Linked DNA regions of Homo sapiens: region 2 is linked to region 1. The links come from fine-mapping of genetic effects on gene expression. A gene starts in region 1. The other region holds a variant in brackets. All regions are shown on one strand. Distances are from middle to middle. Region 1 holds the start of TMEM91 (transmembrane protein 91). Region 2 overlaps BCKDHA (branched chain keto acid dehydrogenase E1 subunit alpha).

What was found. PIP is the estimated chance that this variant, and not a neighbour inherited with it, causes the effect.
Region 2: its variant is fine-mapped to the expression of TMEM91 in whole blood (TOPMed, PIP above 0.99).

What each region holds. Positions count from the first base shown.
Region 1 is chr19:41,368,983-41,384,379 of GRCh38, reverse strand. TMEM91 (transmembrane protein 91) reads right to left here and starts at 7,847. Exons shown (of 4, transcript NM_001098821.2): 1 at 7,526-7,847; 2 at 5,861-6,099; 3 at 1,459-1,608; 4 at 297-665. The coding sequence starts at 6,070. The coding sequence ends at 507. RefSeq lists an enhancer at 1-450 and silencers at 4,354-4,527, 7,602-7,731.
Region 2 is chr19:41,414,555-41,424,085 of GRCh38, reverse strand. It overlaps BCKDHA (branched chain keto acid dehydrogenase E1 subunit alpha), which reads right to left. Exons shown (of 9, transcript NM_000709.4): 5 at 4,790-4,951; 6 at 1,716-1,922; 7 at 1,316-1,457; 8 at 917-1,088. Among named protein-coding and RNA genes, the nearest start is that of B3GNT8, 8.1 kb to the left of the region's middle. The variant G/A (reference allele first, on the strand shown) is at 4,797.

The DNA.
Region 1 (15,397 bases):
TCCCGGCTACTTGGGAGGCTCCTGGGCTCAATCAGGATGATTGCTTGAGCCCAGGAGTTCAAGGCTGCAGTGAGCCATGATTGTGCCACAGCACTCCAGCATGGGCAACAGGGAGACCATCTCTCAAAAAACAAAAAAAACCCGAAAATCCTCTTCCCCCTTTTCCAGCTCAGGTCTCAGGGAGCAAGCACCCTGGGGATGCCCACCACAGCCCGTCACCCTGACCAGTCAGTCCCCTGTTGGTCTCAAGCACCCCCACCCCCTTCCATCCTCCCACACACGCGAACAGACTCTGGTTTGGCTGCAAGGGTGTCTGGTGTTTAATCTCAGGTTGCTGCCGCCCGAAGAGCGGTGGCCAGGAAGGGGAAGGGTTCCAGTCCAGCTCGCTCCCGTTTCTAGATGCTCCTGCCGCCGCCGCAGCCTCATCCACCAAGATTCTCCACTCTCTGCCCACAGATTTGCTGGGCTGCCGGCCTCAGGGTTCACAGTGAGGGCTGTAGGGGCAACTAGGGCGGGTCTCGGGAGGCAAGGTAGGCAGCCAGGGTCACCAGGGCAGCCGCATACGTGCACACGCCCAGCCCGACGGCGAGGACCCCCAGCAGGAAGGCACGGCGGGAGGCGGCCCCTGCCCCCTGGATGTCCCCCTTGGCCCAAGCCTTGTTGGTCTGTAGAGGCAGTGGGCAGCAGTGACCCAGGCATCCCCTCAGTCCCAGACCCTTCCCCTGGTCCCTCCCCCACCCAACATACCCATTCATTCATTCATGCATGTATTCCAAAAGCAGATACGTAGCACCTACTATAGGTCAGGCACTGGGGATGCTGAGTGGTTAATAAAAACATTAAAATGGTAAAAAATAATAATAATAATAAATTTTAAAAAATAAATAAAAACATTAAAATGGTATATGCCACTATTCTAACTCATTTGATTCTCACATTGACCCAGAGGTAGCAATTATTCCCACTTTACAGATGAGGAAAGTGAGGCACAGGGAAGTTAAGTGACTTGCCCAAAATCTTGCAGAGAGCTGGGCACCGTGGCTCACGCCTGTAATCCCAGCACTTTGGGAGGCCAAGATGGGAGGATCACTTGAGGTCAGGAGTTCGAGACCAGCGTGGCCAACGTGGTGAAACCCCGTCTTTATTAAAAATTCAAAAATTAGCCAGGCATGGTAGCGCGCGCCTCTAATCCCAGCTACTCAGGAGGCTGGGGCAGGAGAATCACTTGAACCCAAGAGGCAGAGATTGCAGTGAGCCGAGATTGTACCACTGCACTCCAGCCTGGGCGACAAAGTGAGACTCAAAAAAAATCTTGCAGAGAGTGGCAGACTCAGGATTTGAGTTCAGGTTCTCTGGGCTACCTTCCACCTTCCCGCCTCAGGTATATGGCTCTTTGTTTTTGTGGTGCATTTTTCTCTTTTATGCCCAGTCCCCTCCAAGTCCCACACACAGACTGACCTTCTGGGCTAGACAGAAGGCAGCGATGCCAACGGGCCAGAAACAACACAGCATGGAGAAGACAGCCAAGCCGAGGTGGTCGTGGGGTAGAAATGGTGAAAGACGGCTGCCTCCATCCCAGTCCGAGTCACTGTCACTGGATGACATGTCCTACGGACAGGAAAGTGCCCAGGTGGGCATCTCCATCCACCTTTCCTGCCCCATTGCTCTGCTCTCCATAGCCCTCAAAGGCCAATACCTGCCCCTAGGGCTTCCCCAGAGATACAAAGAGAAAAAAGTGTTCAGAGATGGGCTTTCGGTGTTTGTTTGAGACGGAGTTTTGCTCTGTCACCCAGGCTGGGGTACAATGGCACAGTCTCGGCTCACTGCCTCCCGGGTTCAAATGATTCTCCTGCCTCAGCTTCCCGAGTAGCTGGGATTACAGGCACACGCCATCACACCTGGCTAATTTTGTATTTTTAGTAGAGATGGGGTTTCACCATGTTGGCCAGGATGGTCTTGAACTCCTGACCTCAGGTGATCCACCCGTCTTGGCCTCCCAAAGTGCCAGGATTACAGGCATGAGCCACCACACCTGGCCAGAGATGGGCTTTTGACATTTGTATCCTGGAGCCCTTTGAAGGGAAGTTGTGGATCAGGTCTCCAGAGAAGAGCCCCACCCACACCCAGAGTTTTCAGTTCATTTTCAAGGGGTTGACGGATCCAATCATGGACGCTACAATTGCTTACAATCTCTGAGTGAAAAGCCCCCGCATGGCCGGGCGTGGTAGCTTGCACCTGTAATCCCAGCACTTTGGGAGACCGAGGTGGGTGGATCACCTGAGGTCGAGAGTTGGGAGACCAGCCTGGCCAACATGGTGAAACCTCATCTCCACTAAAAATACAAAAATTAGCCAGGCGTGGTGGTATGCCCCTGTAATCCCAGCTACTTAGGAGGTTGAGGCAGGAGAATCACTTGAACCCAGGATGTGGAGGTTGCAGTGAGCTGAGATCGAGCCACAGCACTCCAGCCTGGGCAATAGAGTGAGACTCCATCTCAAAAAAAGAAAAGCCCCTGAGCAGGGACAAACACCACTGAAACAAGGAACCTGCAAAAAGATGGAGATTATTGGCCGGGCACAGTGGCTCACACCTGTCATCCCAACACTTAGGGAGGCCAAGGCGGGAGGATCATTTGAAGCCAGGAGTTTGAGACCAGCCTGGGCAATACAGCAAGACCCCATCTCTACAAAAAAAAATTTAAAATTAGCTAGGCATGGGCCAGGCTCAGTGGCTCACGCCTGTAAGCCCAGCACTTTGGGAGGCCAAGGCAGGCGGATCATGAGGTCAGGAGATCGAGACCGTCCTGGCTAACACAGTGAAACCTCGTCTCTACTAAAAATACAAAAACAAAATTAGCCGGGTGTGGTGGCACACACCTGTAGTCCCAGCTACTCTGGAGGCTGAGGCAGAAGAATGGCATGAACCCGGGAGGCAGAGCTTGCAGTGAGCCGAGATTGCGCTACTGCCCTCCAGCCTGGGCGACAGAGTGAGACTCCATCTCAAAAAAAAAAAAAAAAAAAATTAGCTAGGCATGGTGTCTTGTGCCTGTAGTCTCAGCTACTTTGGGAGGCTGAGGCAGGAGGATGGCTTGAGCCCAGCAGTTTGAGACTCCAGTGAGCTATGATCACATGTCTGCCCCCCAGCCTGAGCAACGGAGCAAGAAGACCCTGTCACTAATAAATAAATAAATAAAAGATGGAGATTATAAAATGCTCCAGTGGCCTAAATGATTAGGGCAAACCTGCCTGCTGAAAACTCTAGAGTTTAGATTTTTAAGCTTTTTTTTTTTTTTTTTTTTTTTTTGAGACAGAGTCTTGCCCAGGCTGGAGGGCAGTGGCTCAATCTCAGCTCACTGCAACCTCCATCTCCCAAGTTCAAGCAATTCTCCTGCCTCAGCCTCCCAAAAGCGGGGATTACAGGCACCCACCACCACGGCCAGCTAATTTTTTTTTTTTTTTTTTTTTTTGAGACAGAGTTTCACTCTGTTGCCCAGGCTGGAGTGCAATGGCGTGATCTCGGCTCACTGCAACCTCCGCCTCCCAGGTTTAAGTGATTCTCCTGCCTCAGCCTCCCGAATAGCTGGGATTACAGGTGTGCACCACTACACCTGGCTAATTTTTGTATTTTTTCTTTAGTAGAAACTGGGTTTCACCATGTTGGCCAGGCTGGTCTCGAACTCCTGACCTCGTGATCCGCCCGTCTCAGCCTCCCAAAGTGCTGGGATTACAGGCGTGAGCCACCGCGCCTGGCCTAATTTTTGTATTTTTAGTAGAGACGGGCTTTCCCTACATTGGTCAGGCTGGTCTTGAACTCCTGACCTCAAGCAATTAACTTGTCTTGGCCTCCCAAAGTGCTGGGATTACAGGCATGAGCCACAGCGCCCGGCCCCACATGCTTTTCTTACCATGTGACTTTGATATCCTTCCCATCAAGGGATGAGTTCTGTGTCCCCTCCCCTTGAATTTGAGCAGGCTCATGACTCACTTGTAATTAATAGAATGTGGTGGAAGTCATGTTACGTGACTTCCAAAGCGAAATCAGAAAAGGTGAGGCAGCTTCTGCTTTGCTGCAATATTCATGCTGTAGGCTGGAGGTACATAAGCTGCCTGACTGCCCTGAAGCCGTTATGCTGTAAGGAATCCCAAGGCAGCAAACATGGAGAGACCACATAGAAGCCCTAAGACTCGGCTGGGCACGGTGGCTCACGCCTGTAATCTGGCACTCTGGGAGGCTGAGGTGGGTGGATCACCTGAGGTCAGGAGTTTGAGACCAACCTGACCAACATAGTGAAACCCTGTCTCTACTAAAAATACAAAATTAGCTGGGCATGGTGACACATGCCTGTAAATCCAGCTACTCAGGAGGCTGAGGCAGGGGAATTTGCTTGAACCCAGGAGGCGGAGGTTGCAGTGAGCTGAGATTGCACCATTGTACTCCAGCCTGGGCAACAAGGGTGAAACTCCATCTCAAAAAAAAAAAAAAAAAAAAAAAGGAAGCCCTAAGACACCATGAAGAGAGAGAAAAGTGCCCAGCCAGCCCCTGACTGTTCTAGTTCCACCCACCAGCTGAATGCAACCTCAAGAAAGATCCAGAGGCAGAACCATGCAACTAAGTCCCAAATTCCTGACCAACAGAAACCGTAAGAGTTCATCATGATTGTTGCCTGCCTGCCTTCCTTTCTTTCTGCTTTCTCCTTCCTTCCTTCCCTCCTTCCTTTCCTTGTTTCCTTCATTCCTTCTTTCTTCCTTCCTTCTTTCTCTCTTTCTCTCTCTCTTTTCTTTCTTTCCTTCCTCCCTCCCTCCCTCTCTCTTTCTCTCTCTCTCTCTCTCCCCCCTCTCCCTCTCTTTTTCTTTCTTTCTGTCTGTCTTGCTCTGTTGTCCAGGCTGGAGTAAGGTGGTATGATCACAGCTCATTGCAGCCTGGGCTCAAGCGATCCTCCCACCTCAGCCTCCCAAGTAGCTGGTACTACAGGAACACGCCATCACACCTGGCTAATTTTTTTTTTTTTTTTTAAGATGGGGTCTTTCTAATTTTCGGAGGACAAAATGAAAAATTAAATAAAAATAAAGATGGAGTCTCACTAAGTTGCCCAGGCTAGCCTAGAACTCCTGGGCGAGGCAGTCCTCCTGCCTCGCCTTCTCAAAGTGCTGGGATTACCAGTGTGAGCCACTGTGCCTGGCCTGGAATGAGAAATTATAAAAAGTGACAACAGTAACTTAAAAAAAAAAAAAAAAAAAAAAAAGGAAGGCTGGGCATGGTGGCTCACACCTTTAATCCTAGCACTTTGGGAGGCCAAGACAGGCAGATTGCTTGAGCTCAGGAGTTTGAGACCAGCCTGGGCAACATGACAAAACCTCTTCTCTACAAAAAACACCAAAAAATTAGCCAGGCATGGTGGCACATGCCTGTGGTCCCAGCTACTCAGGAGGCTGAGGTGGGAGGATTGCTTAAGCCCGGGAGGTCAAGGTTGCAGTAAACTATGATCGCTCCACTGCACTCCAGCCTGGGCAACAGAGCGAGACCCTGTCTCTCTCTCTCTCTCTCTCTCTCTCTCTCACACACACACACAAAGAGGGAGACAGCAGGGTGGACAAAAGCCAGAGGTGCATGCACTCTGAAGACACCAACCAGCGGAGTCTGAGATCAGAGGGAAGACAGAGCCAAAAGCCAGGCAACAAAGATGAGAGACATAAAACAAGAAGAACCGTAACTGGAAATCTCAGAAGCCCACACACAGCTGGGAAGTGAGACTCCAGGCCTAAGGCAGATCGGCACAGCTGTCAACCTGCCAGATGCTGGCCTTAGTGGGGCTCACCCCAGCCCCCTCCCGTGCCTTCCACTAAGGCCTGCTGTTTCCTACCTCAACATCAGGGGGCCTTGGTTCCCCCAGGCCAGCGCTCACGGAGGGAAGAGGCGGTGACAGGAACTGCAAACCCCTCAGGGACTCGGCAAAGGCTATCTCTCTTAAGGGGGACCCCAGCTCATGCCTGCCAGGCTTCTGGGCAGGGGTCTCACATTCTGTGCCCTCCAGCAGAGGCTGTTGAAGCTCACGAAGACTAGGGCTGTCCATGGCTTTGGGGAAACTCCAGGAGGGGTTTCCTAGGGGTAGGGGGAAGAAAAAGACAAGTTGTAAAAGTCTCACTTCACTCAACCTCTGACCCCTTGCTTTAGAGAGACTCAGGCAGAGACTAGTTAGTGCAGTGGTCCTCAGACCCATTTTACAGATACAGAAGCTGAGGCCCAGAGAGAAAAAAAGATTGGCCTCAGGTTATGAAGAGAACTCAGGGGTCTGGACATTCAATTTTGGGCATTTCTCTCTCTCTCTCTTTTTTTTTTTTTTTTTTGAGACAAAGTCTCCATCTGTTGCCCAGGCAGATCCACCACTGCAGATCCGCTAGAGTGCAGTGGCATGATCTCAGCACACTGCAGCCTCCACCTCCCGGGTTCAAACCATTCTGCCTCAGCCTCCCGAGTAGCTGGGATTACAGGCGCCCACCACCATGCCCGGCTAATTTTTTTTTTTGTATTTTTAGTAAAGATAGGGTTTCACTGTGTTAACCAGGCTGGTCCCGAACTCCTGACCTTAGGGGATCCACCAGCCTTGGCCTCCCAAAGTGCTGGGATTACAGGCGTGAGCCACCGCACCCAGCCAAATTCTGGGCATTTCTCTCAGGCAAAAGCCACATACCCATCACACTTACCCCAATAAGTTGCAGCACCTGTTGCACCATGCCTTACACACTTACCTGCCCCACAAACACCCCCAATATCCATCCCAGGTTCATACCGCGTGACCACCTATCCAGGCCCAGGCACCCCTCCCAGTCACACACACACCCATCCCCTACCCCCAGTGCTGCCTGGAACTGCACTCTAGTCTACATTCCCCATCCTCTGTCCCCTAGACCTGCCCCCCGAAGTCCCCTGCCACACAGCCCCATCTAGGCAAGCCCAGCCTCCACCTCCACACATTCATCTCCCAAAGGACTCCTTGAATATTTGCCCCAAAACATCAGCTCCCAGAAAACACCCCTTTCAGGTCCCCAACCTTCTTACACATTTATCCCAATTGACTCCGTGCACAACCCTACTCCCCACTGCATCACAAACCACAGACACCTGTGCACACACGCACACATGCACCCCGGCACTCTCTCCTATTCTCATGACCTCTGGCATGCCTGCCCCACTCATCAGGCCCAGGCACCCCTGCCCTACTCCACCCACACACCTATGACTCCACACAACTCCCACACATGCACCAGCTCTCCAGAATCCTTTGCACACCTCGCCCCCATAAACACCCTCAACCCCAGCACACACATACACGTACACACGCAACACAACCAGAAAGAATATTCTTCTTCTCGTCCTACGATCCCCCTGGAAGGTCCCCAAGCCTCCTGCCTGCTCATTCCAAACCTTGACTGAGCCGATTTCCTCGCCAAAGCTTTGCCCTCTCATCCCCAACTCCAGGACCCAGGGAAGGGACTGTGACCCCCACCCACCTACGTCCCTCACTCACCGCTCACGATCACAGGCCGGGGCTTCCTGAACCCTCGCAATGACACTTGCCCGGACCCTGCCACCGAGGATCCAAGGGGCGCTGGGACCTTGCGCTTTGCTCTACGCGGGTCTCAGCGCCCCGGGCCCGCTGCGCGCGGGGGCGGGGACGGGGCGGGGCGACGGCTTCCCAGGCTCTGTCCCTCCGCGGCGTCCGGCGAGGGATCCCTGAAAGCCGACGTCAGCGTCCAGGAACGGGTTCCTACGACTCCCGGGGGTCTGGGAGCAGGCGGGAATCCTTGGAGAACTGCAGCCCCTTCCTCGTGAGCCCAGGCCCAAGCTCTGCCGGAGGAGGGGGCACCCCGGATTCTCCAGGGCCTTCCTGGCTTGGCCCCGCCTCCCTTCCCCTTTGCGCAATAATAGCCAATAATAATAACAGCAACAAGGACCGTGCGCCCTGTTCTAAGTGCTTTGCAAATAAACTTACATACACATGTATTCCTCAGCACAACCCTAAGAGGCATAATCGTTTATTGTCCTGTTTCACGCGGGAGGAAACTGGCAAGCCGAGGTTAGGTAAATTGCCTAGGGGTACATCATTGGTTCATTGAGGGCAGACTGTACCCAAGCCCTGTGTTAAACGCTTTACATTCATCATCGCATTCATTCTTCCTCTCAGCTCCGGGTTTTTCTTGTTGTTGTTGTTGTTGTCGCTGCTATTTTACTTTGGTTTTTTTGTTTGTTTTGTTTTGTTTTTGAGACGGAGTCTTGCTCTGTCGCCCAGGCTAGAGTGCAGTGGAGTGATCTCGGCTCACCGCAACCTCCGCTTCCCGGGTTCAAGCGATTCTCCTGCCTCAGCCTCCCGAGTAGCTGGGATTACAGGGGCAAGCCACCACGCCCAGCTAATTTTTGTATTTTTAGTAGATGAGATTTCGCTGTGTTGGTCAGGTTGGTCTTGAACTCCTGACCTCAGGTGATCTGCCCGCCTCAGCCTCCCAAAGTGTTAGGATTACAGGCGTGAGCCACCGCGCCCGGCAGATTTTTTTTTTATTATTATTTTTTAAAAGACGGGGTCTTGCTCTGATCGCCCAGGCTGGAAGGCAGTGGCGCAATCATTGCTCGCTTCAGCCTCAGACTCCTGGGTTCACTGCAGCCTCGGCCTCCCAAAGCGGTGGGATTACAGGTGTGAGTCACCGCGCCTGGCCTATTTTGTTTTGGGGTGTTTTTTTGCGGAGGAGTGCTGAAGGGGTGTTGGCTTGTTTTTAATCCCTGTTTTGCAGATAAAGAAACGGGCTCACGGGCCGGGCGCAGTGGCTCACGCCTGTAATCCCAACACTTTGGGAGGCCGAGGCGGGCGGATCACGAGGTCAGGAGATCCAGACCATCCTGGCTGACACGGTGAAACCCTGTCTCTACTAAAAATACAAAAAATTAGCCGGGCTTGGTGGCGGGCGCTTGTAGTCCCAGCTACTTGGGAGGCTGAGGCAGGAGAATGGCGTGGACCCGGGAGGCGGAGCTTGCAGTGAGCCGAGATCGCGCCACTGCACTCCAGCCTGGGAAACAGCAAGACTCCGTCTCAAAAAAAAAAAAAAAAAAAAAAAAAGAAAAGAAAATAAACGGGCTCACTTGCATGCTCACTTGGCCACAGTAAACAGCTGGTACCAAGCCCAGCATATTGTAACCCCGGGCTGTGTTCCTGTGGCCCTTGCTAAGCCAATGGGTGAGGAGGAAGCAGAGGCAGGTGGGTTAGGAGTTTCTAGGGAAAGAAGGCTGAGGAGTGGGGTCCAGTAGGGGGTGATGCTCTGATTGTCACGTGGTACAGTGATGTTCATGAGTCAGCATTTGGACCCACATAGACCTGGTTTCCTTTCCAGGCTCTTTGTTTGTTTGTTTGAGATGGAGTTTCACTCTTGTTGCCCAGGCTGGAGGGCAATGGCGTGATCTCGGCTCACCGCAACCTCCGCCTCCCAGGTTCAAGCGATTCTCCTGCCTCAGCCTCCCGAGTAGTTAGGATTACAGGAATGCGCCATCACACCTGGCTAATTTTGTATTTTTGGTAGAGATGGGGTTTCTCCATATGAGTCAGGCTGGTCTTGAACTCCCGACCTCAGGTGACCCACCCGCCTCAGCCTCCCAAAGTGCTGGGATTACAGGTGTGAGCCACCATTCCTGGCCCCTTTCCAGGCTCTTTAAGTCACTGAGTGTGTGGCCTCTAGACAATGCCTTCACCTCTCTGAACCCCTATTTCTTCACCTACAAAATGGGGATAATGCTCCTTGCCTCTTATGTGATAACATATGTAGAGTACTTAGAGTTGCTGCAACAACAAATGTCCAACATTGGGAGCCTCTCTGAACCTATTTTGGTTTAGGTGCTGCCTAGGAAATAGAAAAATAAAAAATAAAAAGAACAGATATCCAACATTTATCCAAAGCCTGGCAAAGAAAGCACTCTGAACACATTTGATGGTGTTTATTAATATTATTATTTACATCCATCTCCATCGGACTGATTACAAGACTATCATCGTCTTGCAAGCTTCCACCTCCTTCATGGAGCCTTGTATAGGCCTCCCTTCCCAGAAGCCCTCCGTCTCACCAGACTGGAGGATTCCCTGGCCTTTGTGGGGCCGGAGTTCCCTCGCTCCAGGGCTCCAGGGCTCCTTGCCAAGAGTCCAGATGCTGGCGCTGGCACCGGCCCCACTCCCAGGGAGAACAGATGGCGTCTGCAAGTGCACTTGGCTCAGCCAGTTTCTGGCAGACGACAGAAGCAGGGAGACCCACGGGAGGGTAGACGAGAGCGTGAGGGGGCAGGATTGTTTTACTCAGGAGGGATGCCCTGTTACTTTCTATCTCAACCTTGCTCTCATTCTTTTCATATTTCTATGAAGCATACTGTAGGCCAGGTGCGGTGGCCCACGCCTGTAATCCCAGCCCTTTGGGAGGCCGAGGAGGGAGGACTGCTTGAGCCTAGGAGTTCGAAACCAGCCTGGGCGACATAGCAAAACCCCAGTCAGCAAGGCTGGAGTGCAGTGGCACGATCTCAGGTCACTGCAACCTCCATCTCCTGGGTTCAAGCCATTCTCCCACCTCAGCCTCCCAAGTAGCTGGGATTATAGGAACCTGCCACCATGCCCAGCTAATTTTTGTACTTTTAGTAGAGACGGAGTTTCACCATGTTGCCCAGGCTGGTCTCAAACTCCTGACCTCAAGTGATCTGCCCGCCTTGGCCTCCCAAAGTGCTGGGATTATAGGCGTGAGCCACTGCACCCGGCCTTAAACATACCATGTATTTTTCTTGTTTGTAGTTTGAATCCTCCCACATCAGTGTCGGCACAACAAGGGCTGAGATTTGATCTCGTTTTTTCACTACTGTGCCTCACGGCCTAAAACAGTGCCTGGCACAAAGTGGGTCTTTATTACATATGTGTGGGATGGGGGCATAAATTCCCATCAGCCTCCAGCCTCAGTTTTTCACCAAATCATTGAGCTCTGTGGGTCCCCTCATCCCTCTAGGCCATCCTAGAGATTAATTCACTTCCAGTGAGAGCTCTCTGGCTGCCGTTAGCCTTGTACAGTCTAAGAGGCTACACCTCTTAGTGTTTGTGACAGGTCTGGAATATTAAACATGAGATTCCAGCTGGGTACGGTGGCTCAAGCCTGTAATCCCAGCACTTTGGGAGGCCAAGGTGGGAGGATTACTTAAACCCAAAAGTTCAAGACCAGCCAGGGCAACAAAGTGAAATTTTGTCTCTACAAAAAATAAACAAAATCAGCTGGGTGTGGTGATGCATGTCTGTGGTCCAAGCTACTCGGGAAACTGAGATAGGAGGATTGGTTTAGCCCAGGAGGTGGAGGTTGCAGTGAGCCATGATTGTGCCACTGCAGTCCAGCCTGGGCAACAAAGTGAAACCCAGTCTCAAAAACAAAAACAAAAACAAAAACAAAAGATCACGAGATTCCAGCAAGGATTGTCAACAGAGACTGAAACTATTAAGTTATTGGGTGAAAATCTGATTTGATAAAGAACAGGATATTTATTTAGTCTCAAAGTAGCTTCCCCTAGATTACTTATTATAACAAAAAAAAATTAATGGAGAAAATTGGCAAACATCACGTTAACCAGATGATACAAGTTAATATCACCATTAACAGGACAAATTGACCTTAGTTGCCTCTGGTCTGAAGCAAAGAGGGAGACACATACCATTTCTTTGGTTTTCCTGCCAAAATGCATAACTTAAATCTAATAATAAGAAACATGAGACAAAGCCAAAATGAGGGACACTCTACAAAGGAGGTCGCCTATAACCTTCAAAACATCAATGTTATGAAAAAACAAAGTAATAATAATAAATAACAATAAAATAAAGTGCTGGCCAGGTACAGTGGCTCATGCCTGTAATCCCAGCACTGTAATCCCATGCCTGTAATCCCAGAGGCTGAAGCAGGAGGATTGCCTGAGCCCAGGAGTTCCAGGCCAGCCTGGGCAACACAGTAAGACCCCCATCTCTCCCAAAACTTTTTTTTTTTAAAGGAAGTCTCACTCTGTTGCCCAGACTGGAGTGCAGTGGCGCAATGTCAGCTCACTGCAAATTCTGCCTCCCAGGTTCAAGTGATTCTCCTACCTCAGCCTCCGAGTAGCTGGGATTACAGGCACGCACAACCATGCCCAGCTAATTTTTATATTTTTAGTAGACACAGGTTTTCACCCTGTTGCCCAGGCTGGTCTCGAACTCCTACCCTCAAGTGATCCCCACCCCCGCCCCCTACTGCCTCAGCCTCCCAAAGTGCTGTGATTACAGGCGGGAGCCACTGAGACCACCCTCTCTCTCCAAAACTTAAAAAAAAATTAGCCGAGCACGGTGGCACACACCTGTAGTCCTAGCTACTTGGGAGGCTGAGGTGGGAGGATCACTTGAGTCCAGGAGTGGCTGTGATAGCCACTGCACTATAGTCTGAGTGACAGAGCAAGACTCCAAGTCAAAAAAAGGGGGGTCAGGAAGGAAAAAAATCCTGTTGCATGCTATGACCTGGATGACCCTTGAGGACACTATGCTAAGTGAAATAATCCTGTCATAAGAGGACAAATACTGTAGGATTCCACTTACATGACGTACTTAGAGTAGTCACATTCACAGAGACAGAAAATAAGATAGTGGCCGGGTGCAGTGGCTCATACGTGTGATCTCAGCACTTTGGGAGGCTGAGGCAGGCCGATCACGAGGTCAAGAGATCGAGATCATCCTGGCCAACATGGTGAAACCCCATCTCTACTAAAAATACAAAAACTAGCTGGACTTGGTGGTGTGCGCCTGTAGTCCCAGCTACTCGGGAGGCTGAGGCAGGAGAATCACTGGAACCCAGGAGGTGGAGGTTGCAGTGAGCCAAGATTGTGCCACTGCACTCCAGCCTGGAGACAGAGCAACAGAAAGAAAGAAAGAGAGAGAGAAAGAGAGAGAGAGAAAGGAGGGAGGGAGGGAGGAAGGAAAGAAGGAAGGAAGGAAAGAAGGAAGGAAGGAAGGAAGGAAGGAAGGAAGGAAGGAAGGAAGGAAGGAAGGAAGGAGAGGATAGTGGGCCAGGCATGGTGGTTCACACCTGTAATCCCAGTACTTTGGGAGGCCAAGGCGGGCAGATCACCTGAGGTCAGGAGTTCGAAATCAGCCTGGCCAACATGGCAAAACTCCGTCTCTACTAAAAATACAAAAGTCAGCCGGGCATGATGGTGCATGCCTGTAATCCCAGCTACTCGGGAGGCTGAGGCACAATAATTGCTTGAACCTGGGAGGCAGAGGTTGTGGTGAGCTGAGATCTCACCAGAACACTCCAGCCTGGGTGACAGAGCGAGACCCTGTCTCAAAAAAAATAAAAAACAGGCCAGACACGGTAGCTCACGCCTGTAATCCCAGCACTTTAGGAGGCCGAGGCGGGCTGATCACCTGAGGTCAGGAGTTCGAGTACATCCTGGCCAACATGGTGAAACCCTGTCTCTACTAAAAATACAAAAATTAGCCAGGCGTGGTGACACATGCCTGTAATCCCAGCTACTTGGGAGGCTGAGGCAGGAGAATCCCTTGAAGCCAGGAGGCAGAGGTTACAGTGAACAGAGATCACGTTGCTACACCACAGCCTAGGCAACACAATGAGACTTCCTCTCAAAAAAATAAATAGGTGGCCAGGCACGGTGGCTCACGCTTGTAATCCCAGCACTTTGGGAGGCCGAGGCGGGTGGATCACAAGGTCAGGAGTTCGAGACCAGCGTGGCCAATATGGTGAAACCCCGTCTCTACTAAAAATACAAAAATTAGCTGGACAAGGTGGCACACGCCTGTAGTCCCAGCTGCTCAGGAGGCTGAAGCAGGAGAATCGGTTAAACCCGGAAGGCGGAGGTTGCAGTGAGCTGACACGGTGCCACTGCACTCCAGCCTGGGCAACAGAGCAAGACTCTGTCTCAAATAAATAAATAAATAAATAAATAAATAAAATAAAAATAAATAAATAGGTGGGGCACAGTGGCTCACGCCTATAATCCTAGCACTTTGAGAGGCCGAAGCAGGCAGATCACCTGAGGTCAGGAGTTCGAGACCAGTCTGACCAACATGGAGAAACCCCGTCTCTACTAAAAATACAAAATTAGCCAGGCATGGTGGTGCATGCCTGTAATACCAGTTACTCGGGAGGCTGAGGTGGGAGAATCACTTGAACCTGGGAGGCAGAGGTTGCGTTGAGCTGAGATCATGCCATTGCACTCCAGCATGGGCAGCAAGAGTGAAACTCCATCTCAAAAAATAAATAAATAAATAAAGTAAAATAAATACATTGAAAGAAAATAGGATGGTGATTACCAGGAGCTGCAGAAGAGGGGGGAATAGGGGAGTTGTTTTGTTTCAAAAATGTGTTTACTTTGCAAAAATTTTAGTTTTGCAACATGAAAATGGTTGTGGAGATTGGTTGCACAATGTAAATGTACTTAACACTATTGAACAATACAGTTTTAAACAGTTAAGATGGTAAATGTGTATTTTACCACAATTAAAAGGCTTATTTATTTATTTTTATTTATTTATTTTGAGACAGAGTCTCGCTCTGTCACCCAGGCTGGAGTGCAATGGTGCAATCTCGGCTCACTGCAACCTCCACCTCCTGGGTTCAAGTGATTCTCGTGCCTCAGCCTCCCGAGTAGCTGGGACTACAGGCGCTCGCCACCACGTTCAGCTGATTTTTTTTGTAGTTTTAGGAGGGATGGGGTTTCACCATGTTGGCCAGGCTTGTCTCGAACTCCTGACCTCAAGTGATCTGCCTGCCTCGGCCTCCCAAAGTGCTGGGAATCCAGGCATGAGCCACTGCACCGGGCCTTTTTTTTTTTTTTTTAGAGGTGCAGTCTTACTTTGTTGCCCAGGCTGGAGTGCAGGGTGCCATCATAGCTCACTGCAGCCTGGACTTCCTGCACTCAAGGCATCCTCCGGCTTCAGCCTCCAAAGTAGCCGGGATGGCCAGGCGCGGCCATACATGGCAAAACCCCATCTCTACTAATTAGCTGGGCGTGGCGGCAGGTGCCTTCAATCCCAGCTACTTGGGAGGCTGAGGCAGGAGAATCACTTGAACCCAGGAGGCAGAGGTTGTGGTGAGGAGAGATCACACCATTGCACTCCAGCCTGGGCAACAAGAGTGAAACTCTGTCTCAAAACAACAACAACAACAAAAATGAAGTAGCCGGGACCGCCGGCTGTGTGCCATACTTGGCTTAAAAGCATTTTGTTTTTGAGACAGGGTCTCACTCAGTTGCCCAGGCTGGAGTGCAGTGGCACAATCACAGCTCACTGTAGCCTCCAACTCTCAACCTAAGCGATCCTCCCACCTCCGCCACCAGAGTAGCTGGGACTACAGGGGCATGC
Region 2 (9,531 bases), 43 kb before region 1:
GGCCAGGGAGGGTGGCACACTGACTCTGGGCAGGGCATGTACACTCCACCACGGTTTGCCACCTAATCCTCAAACCAGCTTTTTTTTTTTTTTAAGAGATAGTCTTGCTCTGTTGCCCAGGCTGGAGTGCAGTGGCGCCATCTCCAATCACTGCAAGTTCCACCTCCCGGGTTCAAGCGATTCTTCTGCCTCACCTTCCTGAGTAGCTGGGACTACAGGCACGCACCACCACGCCTGGCTAATTTTTTTTTTTGAGATGGAGTCTTGCTCTCGTTGCCCAGGCTGGAGTGCAATGGTACGATCTCAGCTCACTGCAACCTCTACCTCCCAGGTTCAAGCAATTCTCCTGCCTCGGCCTCCCAAGTAGCTGGGATTACAGGCACCCGGCACCATGCCCGGCTAATTTTTGTATTTTTATTAGAGACGAGGTTTCACCATGTTGGCCAGGCTGGTCTCAAACTCCCGACCTCAGGTGATCTGTCCGCCTTGGCCTCCCAAAGTGCTGGGATTACAGGCGTGAGCCACTGCGCCCAGCCCTAATTTTTGTATTTTTAGTAGAGACAGGGCTTGACCATGTTTGGCCAGGCTGTTCTCAAGCTCCTGACCTCAAGTGATCTGCCACCTCGGCCTCCCAAAGTGCTGGGATTACAGGTGTGAGCCACCATGCCCAGTCTCAAACCAGTTTCTGAAATGGGCACCACCAGCATCCCCTTTCAAAGACAAGGAAGTGGAGGGCAACATGCCAAGGACACAGAGCCAGGACACACATGGCCCCAGCAGCCTGGCTCCACAGGCCACATCTGAGACATCACTGGGGTTATCCCTGAGCCTCCCAGTTCGGTGTTCCACAAATCCTTCCCAAGCTCTGCAGGCCGCAGCAGCCCCCAGCACACCCTCCCGGGCGGGGCACCCTCACCTTCCTGCGGGACTGCTTCCTCCAGGCCTTCTCCTGCTCCTCATCCCACCAGCCTTGGCTCAGCAGATAGTGCCGCAGCCGGGAGATGGGGTGGTCCTGTTTATCCCAGTAATTGACCTCATCCACCGAGCGGTACGCTGAACTGTCGTCACTGGTGCTGTGGTGCCCGATCCTGCACAGGGGCAAGGGGCCCCAGGTCAGTGTGGGCTCCCTGGAGTGGGGGTCAGGAGGGAGGATGGGGGATGAACTAGGGAAGGAGGAGTGGAAACGGAATAAAGGCAAGGGGGAGATGCAACATCAGGTGATAAGGCCATGTTTTGGAGACAGTGATCGATATGAGGAAGATGCTACGGTGGCTGTCAGTGCTGTGGGGGTGCTGACGGGGGGAGCGGCAGGCACCTGTAGGTCATGGCCTCGATGAGGAAGGGCTGGTTCTCTGCCACAGCCCGCCGTCGGGCCTCCTTTGTGGCGTTGTATACGGCAAACACATCATTACCATCCACGCGGATTGACATGATGCCATACCCGGGGCCTCGTGCTGCTGTGGGGACACAGAGAAGGCAGGTCAGGCCAGGGCTGAGATAAGGAACATGCACGAGGCCAAGGGGACGAGCAGGGAGAGGACAGAGAGCAAGGCTGAGTGCTCAGGACCTCAACTCCTGTGGCTGACCAAGTGCCAGACGCCACAGGACACAGGACGAGAACCAGGAAGGAGGGTAGGGGTGGCAGGAAGGTGGCAGGATTGGGGAGGGAAGGAGATGATCCCAGCGGGGTGGGGAGCAGCCAGCAGAGCCCATACCAATGCCATCGCCGCGATACTGCTCAGAGGTGGGCGTGGAGATGGCGTAGCCATTGTTCCGGCAGAAGAAGATGATGGGGCACTCAAGTGTGGCAGCGAAGTTGAAGCCGGCATGGGCGTCCCCCTCACTGGCTGCCCCCTCGCCGAAGTAACAGATGACGACCCTGTTGGCATTGGCCCGCTTGGCTGCGTACGCCGCCCCCACCGCTGCAGGGGATGAGAGGGTGGTGAGCAGGGGCGGAGACTCACATGCACTCACACTCATTCACACTCACATGACCCACGGCTCAAGCGTGGCTCAGGCCAGCAGTCACCAGGCTTCAAGGGGAAAGGAAACACCTCAGCTCCTGATGCCCCCCAGCATCTGCCCACCCAGGTCTCCTCTTGCTCAGCTGAAAGCAACTCCACCCTTCCAACTGCTCAGGCTGAAGAGTCCAGTATCATCTCCAAGCCAAACTTCCCGCCATTCTCCACATCTACTCCACCTTCAGAACCTAACCCCTCTTACCTCCTCCTCTGCACCACCCTGGTCAAGCCCAAGTTACTGAGCAGCCTCCTTACTAGCCCTTCACACACTGCCCAATCCCTTATCCACAGGGCAGCCCGCGGATTCCATGAAGAGGTGAGCCAGGCCAAGGAAGAGCAGACTCCTCCCCACCCACGGCTCCTGTCCCACTTTGAGTAAAAGTCGACATCCCTGCAACAGGCAAAGGCCTTGAGGCCCCACCCAACCTGCACCATCTGCACCCCCACCCACCACCTCCTGGACTTTACCTCCAACCACCCCACACCTGCTCACCCTACACCCGCTCACTCCACACCTGCTCACTCCACACCTGCCCCTCTGGGCTCCTCCCAGCTCCTCAAACACGCCAGGCTCACACCTGCCTCAAGACACCACACAGCTCCCCCCTCACATCCTCTGGTCCATACTTCAGTGTCACTCCAGTGACGGACCCCAGCCACCCCTACAGTGCACCACACCCGGCTGGCTTGGCTGCTCCCTACAGGACCCCCACCCTCATATACTCCAGGAGTTCCCTCTCCATCTCTGTTACTGTCCGTCTCCCCCACCACAATGGCAGCACCAGGAGGGCTGAGGTTTGCGTTGCTTTTGTTCCCTGCACTTGGAGTGGCACCGGCACATGGCAGGAACTTCGTGTATTTGAAGTGACTTAGCAGGGACCCAGAGGGAAGGTTAGGGCCACGCCCCAGCCTTGTGGAAACCCTATTACCTTTAGCTCAAATGCCCCCTAAATGCCCCCTCCTCTGAGAAAGCTTCCCTGCCCACCTCCCACCTAAGAGGCTCAAACTGCTTCTTGTTCCTCAACAAAAGAACACTATGAGCTAAGGGGTGTGGAGCCTCCTGCTGTGCTGGGCACAGTGCTGAGGCCTGGAGAGACACAAACTCATGCATCTCAGCTGCCCTAGGGCAAAGAAGCCAGGGCCCAGACCAACCCTAGATCAGGCTACAGGCCCCGGAGGACAGGAAGGGGCTCCGATTCCTTGTTCTCCACACTATGAGGGTGCAGGCCTGGCACCCAGTGGGTTTGCTTCCCAAAAAAGCTCTTATAAGGGAAGGGACTTCAGGGCACCTACGGTAAGCTTTGGGGAAGCTTACTTGACTCTGAGGACTGAGGCAGACAAAGGTCAGGGCCAAGAACCCAGGCTCTGGAGGTACACAGTCAATGACTTGAGTCCCTGCTCCTCTCCCTCTGTGCCACATGACCGTTAGCGAGTGACTTCCCTCTTTGACTTCAATTTCCTTTTTTTTTTTTTTGAGACAGGATCTCACTTTGGCTAGAGTGCAATGGCACGATCTCAGCTCACTGCAAACTCTGCCTCCCAGGTTCAAGCAATCCTCCTGCTTCAGCCTCCTGAGTAGCTAGGATTACAGGTGTGCACCACCATGCCAAGCTAATTTTTGTATGTTTAGTAGGGACAGGGCTTTGCCATGTTGGCCAGGCTCCTGCACTTTTTTTTTTCCCATTCACTTGCTGTCTCTCACACACACACAAAACACGGGCATCCTGCTCTTGAAAACAGGAACAAGAGCAAATAATAACCTCTGTCCCCATGGCCACAATGAGGGTCCTTATTAGATGATGAACGTGAAGCATTGGCACAGTGGAACCTGGTGCACACGTTGGCTATGTTTGTGAGCAGACAAATGCAGTAGGCATGTGGTTGGGAAATCCAGAGTGTGGTCACACAGGCTTCAGGCCCCTGAATGGGGTGGGGACAGCAACAGAGCCCTCTTCTGAAGGGTCCCAGACAAGAGGTGCATTCAAAGTCTGGAACACAGGCCAGGTGCAGTGGCTCACATCTGTAATCCCAGCACTTTGAGAGGCCAAGGTGGGCAGATCACTTGAACTCAGGTTCAAGACCAGCCTGGCCAAAATGGTGAAACCTTATCTCTACAAAAAATACAAAAATTTAGCCAAGCACAATGGCATATGCCCATAATCCCAGCTACTCAGGAGGCTAAGGCAGGAGAATCACTTGAGCCTGGGAGGTGGAGGTTACAGTGAGCCGAGATTGCACCATTGCACTCCAACCTGGCTGACGAGAGTGAAACCCCGTCTCAGACCAAAAAAAAAAAAAAAAAAAAAAAAAAAAAAAAAGTGGGCTGGGCACAATGGCTTAAACGCCTGTAATCCCAGCACTTTGAGAGGCTGAGGCGGGTGGATCACCTGAGGCCGGGAGTTTGAGACCAGCCTGGCCAACACGGTGAAACCCTGTCTCTATTAAAAATACAAAAATTAGCTGGGCGTGGTGGTGCACACCTGTAGTCTCAGCTAATCGGGAGGCTGAGGCAGGAGAATTGCTTGAAGCTGGGAGAAGGAGGCTGCAGTGAGCTGCGATAGCACCACTGCACTCTAGCCTGGGCAACAGTGCAAGACTCCGTCTCAAAAAAGAAAAAAATAAGAAGAAGAAGTCTGGAGCACAGACCAGGGCTCTAGTGGTGTCACCAACCCAGAATTCCACCCAGAAGGCAGGCAAAAGAGCTGAGGCCTGGACAGGGGTGTGACATTGGTCTGCACATGTGCAAGGTACAGGGCATGCATCCTCACCCTGAGG[G/A]ATCTGCGTGGCCAGTGGAGAGGAGATAGTGACGAAGTGGCGTTCCTTGCAGCCGTAGTGGACAGGCATCTGGCGCCCCTTGCCCAAGTCACTGATGTTGCCATAGCACTGGGCCATGAATAGTTCCAGGGGGTAGTCCCGATACATCAGCACACCTAGGAGGGGAGGAGGCAATGGTTAGCCGAGTGGGCAGTACAGGGGGACAGTTCAGCCCTGTGGGTGACCTGCAGCATGCTGGCAGGCAGACAGGAAAGCTCAGGCTTGTTTTAAGAGGAAGACTGATGTTCAGACTGACTGACTCTGCCCAGCAAGGCCAATCTGATTTTTCAAAAGAAAGCAGAAATCTAGCCTTTTTCTTTCTTTCTCTTAGTGAGATATTGTCTGGTATTTAAGTGCTTTCAACTAATTCAATTACCTTTAAGAAATATTCTAACCATAAATCATTACTATGGCCAGGCATGGTGGTTCATGCCTGTAATCCCAGCACTTTGAGAGGCTGACGTTGGAGGATCGCTTGAGCCCAGGAGTTGGAGACCAGCCTGAGCAACATGGTGAGGCCTCGCTTCTACAAAAAAAAAAAAAAATCAAAACATTAGCCAGGCATGGTGATGTGTGCCTGTGGTTCCAGCTACTTGGGAGGCTGAGGCAGAGGATTGCTTCAGCCCAGAAGTTCAAGGCTGCAGGCAGCTGAGATCGTGCCACTGCACTCCAATCTGGGCTACAAAGCAAGACCCTGTCTCGAAAAAAAAAAAAAATCATCATTATGAACCAAATAACAGCATAGACCACTAATTTACAACTTCTGGACTACAGAAGTACTCTAACCCATGTATGGCAGTAAAACCTTTTCTTCAAACAAAACCTCTGGTGAACACCCACCTCCCCATCAAAGGGAACCGCTCCAGGTTAAGGGGGCCCTTCCTCCGAAGTTAGAAGACAGAAGGGGGTTTGTGATTGCCCTCAGACAAGCTCTTTGCCCCGCCTGAAGAGTGGGACAACCTTCACACCAACACTTTAGGGGCAGCGCTGTGGATCAATGCTGCAAGCACTCAGACCGGGAACATTATTCAGAGGGAGCTCTCTAGTACAGTGCTTTCCAAATCCTTTCTTTACCGCAGAACCCGCTCTTTAGATACAAATTTAATGGAGATCACATTACACACAGCAGTTACCTTTTTTTTTTTTTTTTTTTTTTTTTGAGACAGAGTCTGGCTTGGCCACCCAGGCTGGAGTGCAGTGGCGCAATCTGAGCTCACTGCAACCTCCACCTTCCAGGTTCAAGCAATTCTTATGCCTCAGCCTCCCAGATAGCTGGGATTCCAGGTGTGCACCACTAGATCTACCTAATTTTCTTTCTTTTTTTTTTTTTGAGACGGAGTTTTGCTCTTGTTGCCCAGAATGCAATGGCGCAATCTTGGCTCACTGCAACCTCTGCCTCCTGGGTTCAAGCGATTCTCCTGCCTCAGCCTCCTGAGTAGCTGGGATTACAGGCATGTGCCACCACATCCAGCTAATTTTTGCATTTTCAGGAGAGACGGGGTTTCTCCATGTTGGTCAGGCTGGTCTCAAACTCCCGACCTCAGGTGATCCACCCACCTCAGCCTCCCAAAGTGCTGCAATTACAGGTGTGAGCCACCACGCCCAGCCCACTTGTTGATATTTTAGTTAGAGTTGAGGGTGGTTAGCACTACTTCAACATCCAACTTTAATACAGGTTTACTGGTATTTTCTGACACATGCTTTTGAATGGACATAATACAAATCCACACAAGATGTGGCTGTGCTGCATATGTAACAGATAGAAACAGGAGTTGCTCTGGTTAAGGAGGGAAAGAAAGGTCTTGTAGAGGGTCAAAGAAGGTCCAAGGGACTGATACAGGACCTTGGAATCAGGCTTTCTCAGAATGTGGTACTAGGTCCACCCATGTGAGAAGGACTGGGCAGGGGCAGGGGAACGTGCTAAAAGTACAAACTTGTCAGGCTCAGTGGCTCGTGCCTGTAATCCCAGCACTTTGGAAGGGTGAGGCAGGTGGACTGCTTGAGCTCAGGAGTTTGAGACCAGCCTGGGCAACACAGCGAAACCCCGTCTCTACCAAAAATCAAAAAAAAAATTAGCCAGGTGTGGTGGCGTGCACCTGTGGTCCCAGCTATTCAGGGGGCTGAGGTGGGAGGATCACTTGATCCTAAGAGGCAGAGGTTGCAGTGAGCCGAGATCATGCCACTGCACTTCAACCTGGGTGACAGAGTAAGACCCCGTCTTGAAGAAAAAAGAAAATACAGACTCACAGGCTGATTTGCACCAGGAAACTCCAGGTCCAGTGGGAACTGCTGCTCTTGCTTGACACATGCTACCTCTTTTCTTGTTGGTCTCAGAGACAGGATCTTACTCTGTCACCCAAACTGGAGTTCGGTGGTGGAATCATAGCTCACTGCAGTCTTGAACCTCTGGGCTCAAGCAATCCTCCCACTCAGCTTCCTGAGTAGCTGGGACTACAGGTGTGCACCACCACGCCTGGCTAATTTTTTAATTTTTTAGAGATGGGGGTCTCGCCATGTTGCCCAGGCTGGTATCAAACTCCTGGGCTCAAGCAATCCTCCCGCCTCAGCCTCCCGAAGTGCTGGGATTACAGGCGTGAGCCACCACACCTGGCACGTGCTTCCTCTTAACACTCCTTTTCACCGGGCGCCACTCCCTGCCAGTGCCACCACTGATACTCCACATATAGCCCTGGGAAGACAGCCAAGGGTGGGAAACAGCGAGAGCTGTCTCTGGGTCAGACTGCCATAAAAAGACTCGGCTCCACTCCTTAGGAGAATGTGGCCTGGGCCCATGACCTCACCTTTGTTGACTCAGGTTCTTACCTGGCTTTTAGAGTTGATGGTAATGCTTGCCTCTCCTGCCTCACATGGATGGGGGAGGTGCCTCAATGAGGCAACACCACTGGGGCCTGCCCTAACCTCACCCGGTGTGCCCTCGCTCTGCAGTGCAGTGAGGGGAAATGACAGTCTCCGAGGCTAAAGAGCACATATAACAGCACCTTGGCTGGCCCGGCGCGGTGGCTCATGCCTGTAATCCCCAGCACTTTGGGAGGCCAAGGCAAACGAATCACTTGAGGTCAGGAGTTTGAAACCAGCCTGACCAACGTGGTGAAACCCCATCTCTACTAAAAATACAAAAATTAGCCAGGCATGGTGGTGCATGCCTTTAATTCCAGCTACTCCGGAGTCTGAGGCAGGAGAATCACCTGAACCTGGAAGGCAGAAGTTGCAATGAGCCAAGACTGCGCCACCGTACTCCAGCCTGGGCGACAGAGTGAGACTCCACCTCAAAAAAAAAAAAAAAGGCCAGGCATGGTGGCTCACGCCTGTAATCCCAGCACTTTAGGAGGTGGAGGAGGGCGGATCGCAAGGTCAGGAGATCAAGACCATCCTGGCTAACATGGTGAAACCCGCCTCTACTAAAAATACAAAAAATTAGCCAGGCATGGTGGTGGGCGCCTGTAGTCCCAGCTACTCGGGAGGCTGAAGCAGGAGAATGGCGTGAACCCAGGAGGTGGAGCTTGCAGTGAGCCGAGATCGCGCCACTGCACTCCAGCCTGGGCAACAGAGCGAGATTCCATCTCAAAAAAAAAAAAGGAGAAGAAAAAAAGAACAGCACTCTGGTGTCAAGAGCCCAGGGAGGCACTACCTATCATGATGAACACCACTCTTCTCACTTCACAGACGACAGACAGCGTCACCAAGGTGAGTGGCCTGCCAAGTGAAGTCTAGAGTGGATGTGACTCAACTCCTTACCCTGCACCATGCTGCCTCTGCATGAGTCCCATTTGCAGCTGCCCAGACACTTCTGCTGACCCTCAGTGCTGGACAGTCATTCTTGCAGAGGCGGCCAGCTCTCCCATGTGGAGAGCTCAGCGGCTCCCATGATTCCCATGAGGCTTGCTCGGTCCTGCCTGGTGCCCTCACAAGAGAACCCTTCAGCAAAAACAGGTGCAGTGCTCAGCACAGCTGGCGGGGGCCCAGCTTGCTGCCTGGTGTCTGGAAATCTTTTTCCGCACGGATGACACTAGACCTTAGACAAACACCACAGGGCGTTTGCCCTCCTAGAGCATGTGGGGCCAAGGGCCTGGTCCAGCTGTGAGCAGTAGACAGTCCAGGAGCAGGCTGCAAGCCATGCTGGTCCATGGGGGCTCTGGACAGCCACGTGGTCTGGCCCTGCTGAAGGGCTGTCCCAGGGCGAGTCCCCGATCATGACACCAACCCCTGGCCCTGAGCGCTTACTCTGTGCTGAGGGCACTTTGCCAACTGCCCCAAGACTGCCCTCAACAGCTGTCTTGGGAAGGGCTACCATCCCCCTTACGAATGAGGAAACAGAGGCACAGGGCAGTTAAGCAACTTGCCCCAAGCATCTAAGACAAAGGGTTAAGATATGCCTTCCTGGCCCTATCAGTGCTCGCTGACACTCTGAGGGTAGTCCCCATGCAGGGCCCCACACCAACAAGCTCCCTGGAAGACCCCACTCACTGCTCCCTGGGCTCACTCCTTCGCTCCCAGGCACTCATTCCTGCTCAATGATTTTCTTCATTCCTGGTCTTTGACCCTTCCTTCCTTTCACTCATCTGGGCTTGCCGGGCCCCTCTAATCTTGCACCGCACTCAGGTCTGTCAAGGTTCTTCCACCTGCTCCTGCTCCCCGAAGGATACAGCACCTGAGGAGGGGCCAGGGGATCACTGCA